Linked DNA regions of Homo sapiens: region 1 is linked to region 2. Evidence: fine-mapped expression QTL. A gene starts in region 2. The other region holds a variant in brackets. All regions are shown on one strand. Distances are from middle to middle.

What was found. PIP is the estimated chance that this variant, and not a neighbour inherited with it, causes the effect. A credible set is the group of variants that fine-mapping cannot tell apart.
Region 1: its variant is the best candidate, but not a certain one, in a credible set for the expression of ABCC8 in anterior cingulate cortex (GTEx, PIP 0.55).

What each region holds. Positions count from the first base shown.
Region 1 is chr11:17,389,751-17,398,073 of GRCh38, forward strand. ABCC8 (ATP binding cassette subfamily C member 8) reads right to left here. Exons shown (of 39, transcript NM_000352.6): 31 at 7,934-8,047; 32 at 7,443-7,563; 33 at 7,166-7,296; 34 at 6,102-6,180; 35 at 5,860-5,968; 36 at 5,422-5,525; 37 at 4,516-4,649; 38 at 3,947-4,009; 39 at 3,135-3,378. The coding sequence ends at 3,241. Among named protein-coding and RNA genes, the nearest start is that of KCNJ11, 5.3 kb to the left of the region's middle. The variant AG/A (reference allele first, on the strand shown) is at 3,480.
Region 2 is chr11:17,471,918-17,480,240 of GRCh38, forward strand. ABCC8 (ATP binding cassette subfamily C member 8) reads right to left here and starts at 4,928. Exons shown (of 39, transcript NM_000352.6): 1 at 4,712-4,928; 2 at 2,969-3,110. The coding sequence starts at 4,859. LOC124902641 (a long non-coding RNA gene) reads left to right here and starts at 4,734. Exons shown (of 2, transcript XR_007062609.1): 1 at 4,734-4,814. RefSeq lists an enhancer at 3,584-4,140.

The sequences.
Region 1 (8,323 bases), 82 kb before region 2:
AACCTGCAGCTGCTTCTCTTTGGGGGATGCTCTTAATCTTAGTCTTGAATCCTTTGACAATCTGATGGAAGCTCAGACTCCCTCTCATTAAAAAAAAAAAAAAAAAAAAAAAAAAAAAAGGCCTCGGCAGGAAAGGAGCACAGTTTAACACCTGCTACTGCTGTGGGGCAGCCTGGGCGGCTCCATCTTCTCAGCCATTCCGGCCCTACTTTAAAGAAGGTTTGAGCCGAGGCCACTTGCTTTACACTTTCTCACACCTGTCACCTGACTTCTTCCACGTTAGGTCATGGGTGGTATTTAGGCCTGAACAGTGTGTTAGGGCTGCCTCGGGCACTGGGGGACCCAGGCTCTTGGTCCCGGCATGGTGGTGTTTCTGTTCAGGCATCAGCCTGAGGCTGCCCTGTGGCATGGACCCGGGTTCTCAGCTGGGAGGGAAAGCCTGCTAGATCTCTGTTGTTGGAACAGTAACGGCTTTACCGCTGTCTGTGGCTCAGATCCTTATGGAAGAACCCCTGACCATCTGCGGCCATTTTGTTGGAGTGGGGGCTTGAGACAGGGTCTGGAAAAGGCAGTGTGGCTGTGGGCCACAGTGGGGGCAAGATATGCATTTTATATTGGATTTTCCTTTCTCTCCCTACCCACCTGCAGGCAGAGCGAACACCGCTACAAAGGATGGGTGTGATCATGGGCTATATTAACAAAGATGCAGTGTCTAGGAAGGGGAGGGTAAAATGAGATGAGCAGAGTGGGAAGCTCAAGGAGACAGGGTTACATGGGGAAATCTCTGAGGCAACTACAACTGTCCAGCCATCAGAAAAGGAAAGTCCCCCAGGGATTTGGGCACTATTGCAGAAACACCTGGCCTTGAAGGAGGATGAACTAGTAGTTTTTTGTGGCCCAAAGGGTAGAACCAGGACACTAAGTGGAACAGAGGCAGGCTTTGGTTTCACATATGCAAGAGTCAGTTCTAATAACAATAACCAGAGATGAGCCACATCTGTGGGGTACCCAAATCAAGTCGGTGGGCCATGAGGGATGTTATACAGGGATTTTGGGCCAGGATGACCTTGGGCATCCCTGCAACACCTCACTGTGGGCCCAGCCCTGCCCCTGCTACTTCCCTTCAATCTGTTGAGGTGGGGTGGCTTTGGAGCAGTGGTAGGCTTGTGGAGTCCTCTTTCAGTTCCCCGGCTCTGCTCTTGGGAGATCTCACAGTGGAGGAAGCTGCTGGGCCCCTGGGGAAATCTCAGAGCTGGAAAGGCTGGGTTCTGCCTCCTGGTGCAGCCTTGAGGCCTTACCTCCCTCCCTGCTGCTCACCCTTCTGAGAGGCTGAGTCTCCCACCTGAAAGGCTCAGCCTCCCCTTTTGCTCCATCCTGCACTTGCTTATAGTCATCTCCACCAAATACTGAACTTGTCAAGTCGCTTTCTTGCTCAAAACCCTTCTCCCTTTTTGTCCATGGGCATAGCCCACACTCCTTGCTCTGGCATTCAGGGCTCTCTGATATGATGCCCTCCCCACTGCTGTAATCTCTCTCCCACCTCCCTGATCAACCAACACTCTTAACACACTTCCACCATCACTCCTTAGCTCCTGCTGTCCCTACCTGCCACCCCAACCCTTTCTCTGACTTTCTGCCTAACCAATCCCTATCCCCCACAATATTTAACTCAAATTTTGTCTTTTCCAGGCAGGCTGCCAGGCTTTACAGAGCTCTTCCTTTCCGAGCTTCTCTGGCTCCTGGAACATCCACAGGGGTCTGCACTGGACCTGCCTCCGATAACTGGTGGGCTTTTCTTATGTTGTGCCTCTATGATCCCCTTGCAGCCAAGAGGATGCAGGTTCAAGACTCTTAGGTCTGCACCTCAGGGCTTGGTGCAGCCAGTACTGCAGATGATATGCAAATGATCATAAAATGAGATGTAAATGAGCACCTGCCATTTCTTGGCCAAGGGCAGGTGTGCACTCTTGTTTCGTGATGCAGAGGAAGTCAGGACAGCTGCTGTTTTAGTCTCCCTGGTGTCTGGGCTCCAGCGTCTCCCAGACACCACCTGGCTGACCTGTGACTCATGCACTGTGCTTTCCCTCTGAAGGACCACCTTTCCACTTCTGAATGCCCCTGCTTGAGGGATGGAGATGGAGACATGATCCAGGCCTAGCCAGCCAGTGTATGCCACCCCTCTGATCACAGTGGGGTGGGGATGGGAATGTGATCCAAGTTGGTGCATTGAGATTTGCTCCCAAGCTTTTGCTGGAACTATTGGGAAGGAGTATCTGTTTTGCCTCTTGGGTTGCCTTGGGGCAGGATGTAAGCTGGACCTGCTAGTGGCCATCTGTCATAATGAAAGGGGAGGAAAATGGAACCCAGAAAGGAAGACACATCCCAGATGGATGTCAAACACCTGGGTCCAGCCATGCTTGAAGTAGTATACCTCTTAGCCTTGTCAGTCACATATTCAATAAATTCAGTTTCTGCTTAGGTTACTTTGAATTGGGTTCCTGTCATTTGCAATTGAAATAGTGTTAATCCAGATTTTAATTCAAGAATGAAAGTGAGAAGAAAGGAGACCAAGCTGTATGGAGATCTGTTACCTTATCTGATAAGCTCATTGCAGAAATGCTATCACCCTTGCTATGGACATAATTGTGTCCTGCCAAATTCACAGGTTGAAGCCTAATCCTACAATGTAACTGTATTTGGAAACAGGGCCTGTGAGGAGATAATTAAGGTTTAATGAGGTAATAGGGGTGGGGCCCTAATCCAATATGACTGGTGTCCTTTTAAGACACAGAGAGAAAGCAGGGATGCATGTGCACAGAGTAAAGGTCATGTGAGCACACAGCCAGAAGGCAGCCCTCTGCAAGCCAAGGAGAGAGGCCTCAGGAGAAACCAAACCTGCCAACACCTTGATCCCAGACTTCAGCCTCCAGAACTGTGAGAAAAAAGTCTGTTTTAAAGCCACCCAGTCTGTGATATGTTGTTGTGGCAGCCTGGCTGACTAATAGAGGCCTCATTTCACAGGTAAGGAAGCAGGCTTTTGCTCACACAGCTTCTGCCTGATGTCAGAGCCAGGCTGGTTCTACTGAACCCACCATCCACCGCCAGCCCCTGCCCACCAGACTTAGGGCCTCTAGTAGGAAATAATCAAATCTATTTATTTACAAGTGATTTACAGTTAGAAAACCCAGGCAGGGGTATGGGCAGGGTCCGAATGTGGGATGGCACTTGGGCTCTGGCAGGTCACTTGTCTGCACGGACGAAGGAGGCGAAGACGCTGTCCTTCCGGCTGAGCAGCTTCTCTGGCTTATCGAACTCAAGGATGGCACCCCGCTTCAGGACGATCACCAGGTCTGCACTCAGGATGGTGTGCACTCGATGCTGGGCAGGGCAGGAGGGGGCGGGTCAGGATGGTGGGAATACCACCCGCGGTGGGGGCCACAGCTGAGGGTGGCCCTCCTGCGGCTTGGAGGAGGAGGATG[AG/A]GCATGTGGCCAGAATGTCCTGTCACTGTGGGGACTGCACTTTCCTGGGGTGGATGTGACTACAAGCTCTCCATCTGCTAATACCACCCTTCTCTCCTCTCCAAGTCCCAACTCTACCCCACCTCCAGGCTTCAAGGCTCAGAGACCCTCCACAACCCCTCCCCCACTTCCTATGGAGAAGTAACGCCAGCCTAACATATAAGGCCTTGGGACAGGGGCAGGCCTTGGAACCTGGAGAAGGAGAGGGGAGGTCTGAGGGAAGCACAGGGGCAAAACCCCCCACCCCAAATCCTGCAACCCAGGCTCCCTGCATGCCCTCCAGGCCCCTTGCCCTGAACTGCCTGCTTCAGGGTTCTTTCTTGATTACTGGGACCAGGCAAGCCCAGGGGCTGTGCACTGATGACGGCCACAACAGGCCAGTCCTGTCCCTGGGTGTCCCTCTGCACCCCATCAATGGGCCCCTTACCGCGATGGTGACCACAGTGCGGTCTGCGAAGGCTGTCATCACCACCTTTTGGAGGATGTTTTCCTGCCAAGTGGGGGCAACAGCTGTTGGCTCACCTGCCCAGTGGATGGGGTCTGGCCTGGCTTGGGGGATGTGGAGCCCAGGTCTGTGGCTCAGCTCCCATCTGACCCCGATCCTAGTCCCACCCCCACCCCACAGGACTGAACAGGTTCCCGGCACTCAGGGACTGGACTCAGCCTGTTGGGAGCTCAGCTCTGTGTGTGTATGTAGGTTGTGGTTGTGGCTGTGTGTGTGCTGTTGTGATAGGTGACAGTGTGAAGTCTGTGTGGGTCTGTGTGTGCAGCTTATGTGTGTGTTTGCATAGTGTTTTTGTGTGTGCGTGTGTGTGTGTAACATTCCCTAAGACTAGACAGAGTCAGGGTCCCCCCAGCTCTTTTCATTTTCTGCAACACATAGCATTTGATGTTAGAGGCAACTTGAGCCTCAGGACTACTTCGTGCAAATTTCTCCCTAGCATCCCACTAAACCCTTTCCAAGACCATGGTCCCATGGAGGGGCCCAGGACCAACCGTGGCCATGTCAATGGAAGCCGTGGCCTCGTCCATGATGAAGATGCTGGTCTTCCTCACGAAGGCCCGGGCCAGGCAGAACAGCTGCCTCTGTCCCTGGCTGAAATTCTCCCCGCCTTCTGTGATGATGGCATCTGAAAACAGCCCGGGGAGATGAAGTAGGACTGAGTTAATCTTGTGCTGTGAGTGGAGCAGATGGGATGGCTTGGGGGGCTGTTGGAAAATGTGTGCATGGGGGCAAATAGGTGGGTGTGTGTCCAAGAGCACAGGCGTGTGCAGGGCTGGTGCACCTGACACAACAATGTGGAGGCCGTCTGCAAGGACTGCAACGAGAAGGGCACCCCTGGAGGTGTGTGCTGCTGTGGCCCTGGGCAGTTCTGGGAGGGGGCGTGTGCACTGAGGGGTGCACTGAGTGTGTATGTAGGGCCTTGGTAGGGTGATTCATTGAAACCAAGGCTTGGCCACCCCCAATGCTCCAGGAGCTGCAGCAAATATACCAAGGCTTTGCCAATCACCGGTGGCCTTGATGAGTGACCCGTGTCTATGATTGCCCAGTCCATCTTCTCCTCCCCTAAGGCAGAACTGGGCATGCAGGTGGATGGGGCAGGGCAGGGCTGAAGATGCCCCCTTGGCATGGGGGACTCGCAATCTCTGTCTCACAAGGATCCCTGACTGTACCCGCTGTACCCTGCAGGAGGAGCCAGACCCTGAACTGACCAGTTGTGTGACCTGGGGCAAGACACCTGACCTCTCTGGGCCCCCGTATAGTGAGAAGTAGGACTAAATGGTCCTGCCAGGCTTCAGACTCCAAACTTGGGGCAAACCTGAGACACGGGCTTCTGTCTGCCATCCTTACAGGGTCCTTGAGTGCCCAACCAACCCAGCTGCATAGCCAGGAGTAGTTACCGAGGCCTCCTGGCAGTGCCTTCACCACCAGCTTCAGCTGGGCGATTTCCAGGGCCTCCCACAGTGTGCTATCTGAGCACTTCCTCTCAGGGTCCAGGTTAAATCTGGAAGTGGCACAGAAAGCCCCAGTAGGGAGGGAGCAGGGTCCTGCCTGCATCCCCAGGCGGCAAAGAGGGCAGTGAGCGAGAGCAGACTGAGTTGGAGGTCTGGCTGGGAGAAGCACCGAGGTGGTGGCAGTGGGTGGGGGACAGCATCTTAGACCCATGGGTGGGGGATCCCCTTCCAGAGGCTGCCTGGGCCTGATGGGATGGAGAAGGGCATGAGCAGGAAACACCTCTGGGATCCTGGTCTCCCCCAACCCCCTCCTCTTTGTGCTCCAGATCTGATGGAACTGAGCCGGCCTGGGGCTGGGTGGGCCTGAGGGGTGGTGGGGCTCACCGGATGGTGCCGCTGAAGAGGACGGGGTCCTGCAGGATGATGGAGAGGCGTGAGCGCAGGGTGTGCAGCGGCAGTTTGGCGATGTCAATGCCATCAATGATGATGTGCCCTGCATGGGTCCCAGTGAGGGTGCAGGGGAAGGCGGTGACTGCTGGGCCTCCTGTCATGTCTGACCACGTGCCAGGGCTGAGGCCTCATCTGGTGGCTGTGGGTACACGTGGGGTGCCCGCCTTACAACTCACCTTCGAACGTGTCCACCATGCGGAAGAAGGCAAGAGAGAAGGAGGACTTCCCACTGCCGGTGCGGCCGCAGATCCCGATCTGGAAAGAGAGAAGCAGGCACCGCCACTGGGACTCTGGGGCTGCTGGGAATAGCCTCTATGCTAGCTCTGGGTGTGTGTGCAGGTGTGGGAGGTCACAGGGTATCTTTTTGGCCTGGTTTTCTGACTAGTTTCTCTTTGGACACCACAGGTTTGGGCTTGTTTCCTGCAGTGGGTCCAGAGAGGGCTTACACAGGGACCGGCACGCAAGTGCAGGCATGGATGTCCATTTGCCTGGGCCTTGGTGTGGGTCTGGGTGTGCCGGGTACTTGGCTGAAGGAGAGCTGGGGGGCAGTGGTGTGTCTCTATGGGCATGGGTGTGGCAGGAGGACACAGGGGCAGCTGAGAGTGGTATGCATGGATGTGTCTGTGTGCCCCGCCCTACAATGGAGCCACCTCTGATCCCGTTGCTTCCTGGCACTTGGGTACCAACAGAAATTACAATACGGAGACAGATAGTGACATAGAAGGATGAGAGAGGCAGGGACAGAGGTACATCCCAAGGTCAGAGAATGACATGGACAGCCACAGCAAAGTGAGACAGAGACAAAGAGACAGAGTGGGAAACGAGAGGAGAGCTGGGCCAGGGCCATAGGCAGGGGCTCACCCTCAATACAAGGGTGGCCTCGCTGTCTGCCCCCAGGTCCCTGCCCTGAAGCTCGGGGCAGTGCCCTAGGGAAAGCCCCTGACCATTCGCAGAGAGGGAGGCCCTGACAAAGCCCGTGTGAGCTGGGGGAGTCCAGAGTGTCGGTCTCCTTGGTGGATGAGTGAGAAGACAAGGCCTGAGGGCAGCACTGGGGGAAGGCAATAGAAGGAGAGGAAAGATGGGCCCCCACAGGCCCAGGGCAGGAGACTGCGATGTCTGAATAGTGAGAGGCCTCGGCCCTGGAGGGCCACGAGGTGACTGCGAAGCCATCCAGCTCCGTGCATGCCCCATCCCCTGCTCACGCCTGTCCTGCAGCATTGGGTTGGGCCCGTGCTCTGACCTTCTGTCCAGGGGCGATGAGGGCATTGACGTGCTTCAGCACCGGCTTCAGGGAGCTGTCGTAGCGCACGCTCAGGTTCTGGATCTGGATCTTCCCTTGGTCTGGCCAGTTCTTTGGGATCAGCGATGGTGCTGGGGGCCGGGCTGGGCTCAGCCACCAGGCATGGGCCACAGCTAGTATCCGAAAGTGCCACCCCATCCCCAGGCTCCCTTGTGGCCCCCAACCCAGACACACTCCTCCTTGGACTCTTCCCCACCCCTCTCCCTGAGCCTCTCACCCAGGAGCCCCTCGTAGCTCTCTGCCTCGGTTTTCAGGAGCCCATGGATGCGCTTCACAGCCCCCAGCTGGAGCTCCATGTCTGCCAGGTTCCTCACCATCCAGTTGAGGTAGTTGGAGACCTGTGGGGAGCAAGCCAGTGGCGCACACTCCATGGTCGCTTAGTTCTGTCCTCAGCCACCAGAATGGCTCTTCTTAAGGCTGGAGAGGGGCCAGGGCCCCAGATTCCTTTTGCTGCCATCCACTGCCTGCTCAGAGCAGCCCTCCCTGGAGGCACAGGGAGGGTCAGTCATGTGGCTCCCCAACCTCCACCTGTCTGGGGCCTGGGCCCTGGGGCCTGCTGGTCAGCCTTCCTGCCCGCACTGTCCCTCTGGCATCAGATGCAAATGAAATTGGGGTAAGGCCTGGGAGTGTCTCATGTCTCCAGTGACGAAGGTGCTCCGGGAGTGCTGGTGTCTGACCCCTCCTCTGCCCTAGCCCACTGCCGCTCACCATTAGGGCGTAGGTAAGGCCCAGGCCCACCAGGCCAGCAGAGAGCTCCCTGTGCAGGGAGTTGGAGATGGAGGTCACCGCTGCGATGAGCACCACACATGCACCGATGTACTCCTGGGGAGGGAGAGGAGCTGACCTGGGCGCTCAGGGGTTAGAGCCACAGGCCCCTGTTCTACCTCACTCCTTTTCGGGGCAGAGAGCAGCTCAGCCAGGCCTCCACTCCAGCCCTGCAACTCATGCACACGTCACCAGACACACACAAGGGCTGCGAAGGCTGGAGCCCCAGGAGCCAACATGTCCCACAAGCTCATGCTCCCCTACCCCCTAGCCCCTGCACACCCTTTAACATGCACGCCTCAGCTGGCCCACAAACACACACAATGTGGGTGT
Region 2 (8,323 bases):
AAGGTACAAGACAGACAAGGCCAGAGAGCAGTCATGAATGGCAACACTGGGCACAGCCAACACCCTTCCTGGGGATCTTCAAAACTCTTGCCTCTTTACTCCTTGAAATAATTTTGAAACACCCTCTACTCTCTCACACATTTTTAAGCTGACATCTAGACATGTTTTATTATATGCTGATATAAATGCTTTTTTTTGCAATAGGAGGTAGAAATGTTAAAATTTTATAAGACGAAATAAGATGAGGATTAACCATAATTGAACTAAATATTTCATGACATGGCTTCATAGAATAGTTTTTAGCTGCTTTGTTAAATAATACACATTCAATTAGTTAAGAAATTAGGTAAAGTTTTATATACAGGCTTTATCCAGTGTATGGTGGTCTGGGAAAATATTGTAGTTATTAAAAAATATCTTCTTCACTAACTTATACTGTTTTGATTGTTCTGAATTCAGAACATCACAGAAAGAAATAATACCCAAAGGAAGAGGGGAAGCCCTACAGGTTTAAGATGGCTTAATTAGTCACTAAATGAGGCTCACTCTAAATCAAATCAGGGCTGCCTTAATCAGCCCCCTCCCACCTGCCCCCTAAATTTCCAGACAGCTCTGAAAACCCAGGCTGGATTAGACTGGAGGTATCACAAGGGTCTGTGACTTCTCCTGTCTGCTCTTTTCCTGCCCCTCACTCAGGCCTGGGGGTAGGAGCTCACAAAGACCAGATGACAATTACTCAGCTTGAGCTGATCTGTGCCCTGGGGAGGAGATGGCCCTTTGCACTGAGCTGAAGCAGTACAGCCACACACAGGAGGGGCTGCTGACAGCCAGCAGGAGGGCATCCCTGGACCGATTCATTCCAGTTTCCCACATTCTGGGAATACACAGTCTACCCAGTGCTCTGCCACTCCGGGCTCTGCACCCTGTCCATGCTCGAATTTCACCCTCCACAGCCCCATGAAGCAGGCAAGCCAGGGACTATGATGCTTGTTTCATAAGGCCAGAGAGCAGTCATGAATGGCCACACTGGGAACAGCCAACACCCTGCCCAGGGATCTTCAAAACTCTTGCCTCTTTACTCCTTGAAATAATTTTGAAACACCTTATACTTTCTCACACATTTTTAAGTTGGCAACTAAAATGTTTTATCGTATGTTTATAAATGCTTATGAGGCCCAGAAAGCCTGAATGACTTGTGCAAAGTCCCATAGCTGGTACACAGCAGCAGTGCTCACTGAAGACCCAGGTCTTCCTTCTCCAAGGGCGGAGGTGTCTTTCTCTGTCACCATCTGGTGAGTATTTCCCATCTGAGGGCTCACTGTGGCATTTGTGCTACTTTGGAAGGGGTGTAGGGGTGGGGGTGGAGGCGGACTTGTCACGTGCTTGTGTAGCAGTATGCCTTCTGGTCTTCTTGCTGGTCTAGGGACTTTAATAAGCAGGCAGAGCTGCTGCCTCCAAGTCAAGCAGGTATTTTAGAGATCACTGCTGAAGCCAGGATGCAGGGACATTGGGGAAGGGAAGGTGGGGAACGGGAGGGAGGATGAGGGAGCCTATCCCCTGCCATCCAACTACAGGAGCCAGGCAGCACTGCAGGAGTGCAGTCTGGGTATAATCTGATTCCAGCTCAGGGGGCGCTGGACCTCAGATACTCAAGCCAAATATCCCTCTCCTCCACCACTCCCTCTCCTGGCAGTCTCTCATCCTTGCTGGTTACTGGATTCTTCCTTAGTGAGATGGCTGCTCCCGCTCCTCTTCTGTCCCTGACTGCTGACACACCATTTCTGTCTGCAGTTATTGCTCACCTAGACTACTGCAGTCAATGCTAAGTCCTGCTTCTATTATACCTCTAGATTCTCCCTGCCTCCAGCCTGCGCTGAACACCTCAGGTTCCCACCTAAAAGTGTTATGCTGATGACATCTCTCTTCTGTTCCAAACTGCTGACCAAATCCGACCCAAACATGCAGGCTGGGATTCACAGTCCTCCTGAGATGCCCCAACCTGGGTTCCCAGCCTCAGCCTCCATCGCTCCCCAGCCTGTGTTTAATGCTCCAGCCCCTGCGCTGCTCCCTAGCCCTACCTGCTTTTCTCTTTGGTGCCTTTTCCCTTCCCTCAGGCACCACCAGTTCTCTCTCTCCTTCCTCCTCTGTGTGTCTGAAGCCTAGTCACCCTTCCAGACTCCGCTCCAAAGCCCTCTCAACCATGGAGCTTGCCCAATTCTGCCTTCCTCTCACCTCCCAGAGTACTTATTTGTAACATGGTTTCATTCATTCTCCTAAGGACCCAATAAATGTTTATGGACTGAATAATGTTTATGTTTATCACATGCCTTGCACTGTGAACACAAAGATGAACAAGACTCAGATTCTAACTCTTAGGCCTTTCTGACTCTGAAGACAGTTTTGCAAATAGACATAAACTTTAACATACAGTGTGATCTGTGCTGTAGCAGAGGTGTGAGGAGTGTGCTGTGAGGCCCAAACGGAAGGTGGGCATGGGGAATGAGGCCAGAGATAGGTGGGGCTGACTGTGAAGACCTTGAATGGTGGGCTGAGGATCTGAGACCACATCTTCAAAACAGCTGAGAACCAAGGAAAGGTCTTATGCAAGAGTGGGTGGCATGGTTAGATTTTTTTTTTTTTCCAAGAAGGTAACTCCGGCAGGTTGTAGAAGAGGCCAGACATTTTTCACTGGAGTTGTGGCATTCTAATAGGCTCTAGCATTATTTCACTGGGACTTGGCATGCAGGTCCGTGTTCCCTCTGCTCTCCTGGACTGATGGCAGGGCCTGGGACTCACTTGCGTCCAGTGCCCAGCTCAGAGAGGTTGGCACATAGAAGACACTGAGCTGCTGGATGTAGTAACAAAAGACATGGGCTTGTGGAATATAGGTGAGCTAGGATCTCCTTGGGCCTTTCAGGAAGTACCCTGGAGCAGATTCACTTTCCTGAGTCCTCAGACAGTCACTCACCCATCAGACAGGATGCCCTCTGCAATCTCACACACCAGGACGAAGAGCAGCATGAAGGTCAGGATCCACCGCAGGTTGTGCCCAGGGAAATGAAGCCATGTGCTGTGGTGGATGTGCACCTTGGAGCTCTGACTTCCCCATCCTGCAGGGAGAGACAGTCAGAGGCAGGATGCCTGCCCACTTGGAGGAGGAAGAGGGTGCATGAACCCCAGAAAGGTGCTTGGGCATTGGGTCCATGGTGAGGGTGACACCTACACATGAGGATCCCCAAGGCTGGTACACACAAACTAAACGTCCAACTCATTCAGCCTGGTCCTATGCTGGTACCTCCCCCACCACACCTTTTTACTGAGACAGGGTCTTGCTCTGTTGCCTCTGCTGGAGTGCAGTGCCACGATCACGGCTCACTACAGCCTTGATCTCCTAGGCTCAAGTGATCCTCCCGCCTCAGCCTCCTGAGTAGCTGGGACTACAGGCGCACATCACCATGCTCAGCTAATTTTTAATTTTTTGTAGAAAGGGCGGGGGGGGTCTCACTATGTTGCCCAGGCTGGTCTCGAACTCCTGGACTCAAGCAGTCTTCCTGTCACAGCCCACCAAAATGCTGAGATTACAGATGTAAGCCACTGTGCCCTGCCAAGGTACCCCATTATACATACTAACTTCTTGTGTGACAAGTCATCAGGTTAATAAACCGTTTGGCTGAGAACAGAAGTGTAAATGCTGTTCTTTTTTGATTTTTGATGCACATATGAGCACATATTTTGTATGTTTTATTTCTATTTCTATCTAACTGTCTTTGTTAATAACTAGCAACTCTGCTTCTGCAGCAACCTCTTGTAAATCTAATTTTGTGACAATCTTTCCTTTCTTCCCCAAAGCTGTATATGAATTTTAAGATTTGCTTGTTTTCTTAAAGTGAATGAACACGTTTTGGGGATGCAGGGGACACCCTATGAGTTGATAGACTTGACTGGTCTGGAAGAGTCAAGGTCTTGGAGAGAGATGGGGGGGACCTCAGTGGAGAGGCACGCACGATTGTCCCGGCCGTGGCGCCCAACTTTGCAAGCAAGGGCGCCGGGGTCGCTGCGTCGGCGAGTCGGAGCTACTTTGCGCAGAGCCTGAGAAGTTGCGCTCTGGAGACACATGCCCGGGTGGGGTGGCGGGGGAAGGGAATCCAAGTCCCTAGCTCTCGCCTCTCCTCGCCCAGGGCGCGGGCCTGGGACTGTCAGAGATCACGGACCACTGCGCGGCTCAGCCCGGTGAAAGCATAGGGGTTAGCTGGGCCTCCATCCCAGACTCCAAAGCACAGGCTTCCCTCTTCCCTAGGCCCAGCTGCGGCTGACAGGGAGGCTGCCTTGCGGGAGGGGTGACCCGGCTCCCTAAGCTGCGCCACGGAGGGTGAGGCCCGACCCCTCTCCAGTTTCCCACTGCGTGCTGAGACCTCCTCTTTCCCTTTTCCCCATCCCAGCTCTTGGCCCTGCAGAAGCAAAACTTGGTGATCCCATGGGTCACAAACGTCCGCTGTGTTTGGCGCGGGATCGGGGGCACCGGGGGAGTGAAGGGATGAGCTGGTGTGCGAGTGCGGGGACCGGCGGGCAGGACACAGGGCAGGGGACCCCGGGAACGAGGCGGACGGCGGTCGCGGGCCGGAAGGGGACGCCGAGCGGTGCGGCGCGCAGCGCCTCCTCCTCCCTCCCTGCTCTCCCGTCCCCTCCTCCGCGGCTCGCTGCGCGCACTCACCAATGAAGAGGATGGGGAAGGTGATGAAGAGTAGGAAGACGTGCGGCACCACGTTGAGCGCGTCCACAAAGCAGCCGTTGTTGAGGACCCCCTGGTCCACCCGGTAGGCGGCCGAGTGGTTCTCGCTGCCGCAGAAGGCCAGGGGCATGGCGGCGCGGGCGCGGGCTGGGCTCGGGCTCAGCTGGCTCCGCTGGCTCCGCGCGCCTGCCGCGCCTCTGTCCCTTGCAGCTCCGCCGCCCGGCCCGGCCGTCAGGCCCCCGCCCCCCGGGCCCCGCCCAGCCCCGCTGGCCTCCCCCTCCCTCACCCCGCCCTGCTCCACCACCTGCGGGGCCGGGGGGCGGCGAGGAACCCGACCGGCCCTGCTACGCTTGCGCCCACCTTCCAGATGTGGAGGCGCGTGCTCCCAGATGTTGCCGGGGTGGCTTCGTGAGTGCCCTGATGCACGCGTGCGCTGGGGGAGAGGGGAAAGGCAGGCTAAGATGGGGAGTGGGGTGTGGGCACACTGGAGTCTGGGTGGGAAAGGAGGGTGGGGCGTGCAGAAGAGGAGAGAAGGGCCCGCAAGGCCTGGAGTGGGCGGGTTCAGGGTCCCGAGTGTGAGTTCACCTGGGCGTGGTGCGGATGGATGTAGAGAGCCGAGGGATGGCGCAAGTCTCCACCCAACATGGATGAGAAAAGTGGGGCAGAACGTTACCTTGTGGTGGTGGTGGTGGTGGGGTGGGGCTTGGACATTTTCAAAAGTGGTCCCAGGTGGGGCACTCCTAGGTACTGCTTTACAGCGTATCTGGCACTTTCACACAAGGGATGTCCCAGAACTCTTGCTAAGTACAGGTTCTAATCGCTTCCAATTTTCTGATGGGGAAACCCAAGCTGCGAGGGAGCTGAAGGGAGGCCAGTAACATGACTTCCCCCAAGGTCTCAGTGCCAGCAAGCAGGGAAGCATAGCTTGAACCCAGCTCCTCAGGTCCCCCGTCCCCACCCCCATCATTTGTACTCATGCCTCTGGTACATGACAACCTTACAGCGACTGGCAGACCAATGGGTAGAATGGGTGACAGCCCCAGGCTGATAAAGAGGAGTTTAAGAAACGCATCTGGCCAGATGGATGTGAGGCAGTGGAGAGGGACTGAAATTCTTAACCTCACCTGGGACAGGCTTAACAGTTGGAGGACACCGTGCAATTGTAAAGACAACATTATGTCTTCCTATACGTTTTGGAGAGATTCTCACAAGACTGTGGCCCAAAGAAGTTTATATTGTATGTAGAAAGAACAGAAGATGGGATTTGGGGGTTAGATTTAAGGAGAACTTTCCTAGTTAGGGTATGAAGCATAAATGCACATGTTCTTAGGAACAGTCAGGGGAACACAAAAGAAAGACCCCTTCAGCCCCTTTGCCTACAAGCTTCACTGAGCCTGCCCTGAGGCTGCTGAGCCTGGTGAGCCTCTCCAGCACGCTGTCAGCAAGGCCGAGGCTCTGCCCAGGCCCTGAGGCAGAGGGCAGATGGGGTTGGGTGAAAAGCCTTGGGAAAGCAGGAGTTCAGGGTCTGAATGCCTCAGTCTCTGACTTTGGAGAATTTCTCAGAAGCCAAAAGATGTTTCTTGCAGCATCAGCCAAAATAGTGAAAACTTGGTGGCAAGAAATATCCAGCACCAGGGACAGGGGTTAATCAACCTTGAAAAATGCAACTGCTGGGACGGTGCTAGCTGAGTCTGTGTAGTCAATAGAAAAACTTTACAAGATAGTGTCAGGTGAAAAACGGCAAACAAAATTGTGCTTCCCATGATTATAGCCGTACGAAATATGTATACTTGCATGAAGCCTGCAGGGAAAGGTCAGACTTGGAAATTTGGTAAGGCGGTGCTCAGTATGTACTGGCTGCCGTCGCTGTGCTTATCCTCATTCCCTTTCTTTAAAAATGAGACAACTGAGGTTCAGAGAGATGAGATGACAGGTCCATGGTCACCCAGTAAGATTTTTTCTTTTAGTTTGTTTTTCTTGCTTTCAAGGTTTTTTTTTTTCATATTTTCTGCAATGTTGTTATTTTCTTTTGTAGTTACAATTTCAGTTTTTTCACACTTTCAGCAATGCTATCTTTCTTTTTAGCAGTAATAATATATTTACTTTTAAAGAACAGGGCTCCTAGTCCTGGCTCTACTACTACTAGTTGTGTGATTTGGGGGCAGGTTACCATTCTGCACTTCAGTTTCCTTATTTCTAAATGGAAAAGATAATAATATGGAACCCAGAAGATTAAGATGAGATCATGGGTATGAATGTGCTTTGCAAGTTGGGGAGATAGTCCAAGCTACTTCATCCCATGGGTGACTACACACGGCAGCCCCTTGATCAATCAGGGTTATTTAATGGTCTCTCCCTCACCCCACATTGCCTGGTGCAACCCTCACACTTGCCTATTCTGGGTCATTTGAAACAAACAAAAAGTCTGGTGTTAAGGGAGCATCAACTGGGACTAAGAGAGTGTTAAGTCTGGAGTCTTGGGGACTCGTGTTTGCCATCTCTAGCACAAACTTACTGTGTGACTGTGGACAAATTCCACCTTTCCCTGCACCTAGGTCTACACTGAGGACATGCACCACACTGCCCACCATGTGGGTGGGAGAATTACTTTGAAAAAGTGTGGAGTCAGGTGCGCACGGAGGCATGAAAGGACTTCCTTTGTAGTATATGGGTTGTATTCCTGGAATCAACCCAAATGCTCATCAGTATGGGGCTGGTTCAAACAGACAAAACCCAAACAGACAAAAAACAGATATTGTCTGTACTGTGGGATACTGTGGAGCAAGCGCAGAGAATAGAGTTATGCTTACTGGCAGGGGAAGATGTCCAAGACACAGACGCAGAGCGGTGTGTGGCATACAAAATCATTCATGTCTGTAACAGGGCTACGTCTGCCTCTGTCGGGGAGATGCTGGGTCTCTGGTGCTTCCCCACCTCTAGCCATGCCTTTTGTTTCTCTTGCTAGGGGCTGGAAGAAGGTCAGACTCTGAGAGCTTGCTTTGAGCAAGGGTACCCCGCTCTGAGAATTCCCAGCCATTCTCCTGGCAAAATGAAAACTAGGGCTGGATTTCCGGGATTGGATTCTCACACTCACCGGCTACTGGGTGGGTGTGGCCTCAGGCAGGGTGCAGTAAAGGGGCTGGTGCAGAGCTTCAGAAAAGTCCTTTCCAGATCCCTTGAGCCAGGGAGGTTAAGGCTGCCGTGAGCCATGATCGGGCCACTGCACTCCAGCCTGGGCGACAGAGAGAGACCCTGTCTCAAAACAAAACAAAACAAAACAAACAAACAAAAAGTCCCTTCCAGCTCTGATGTTGTTCTGGCCTTAGTGCCTTTGTCTCTATCTGGCTGACTAGGAGTGCCAGTGTTCCAGTGACCATGGCAGAGGGGGTCATTACAATGACAATGGTGACGTAATGGAGTGGGGTTATAGTTGAAGAAATAAACCCTTTCAATAACCACAATCAACAGCGGCCTGGTTAAAAACAGACAAAAGCAAAACTCATGGTGTGACCTATACTATGGAATAGTGGAGAACAAGTACAGAGCCTAAGTTCGGGTGACCCTTACTGACTGGGAAAGGTGTGTCCTTTCCTG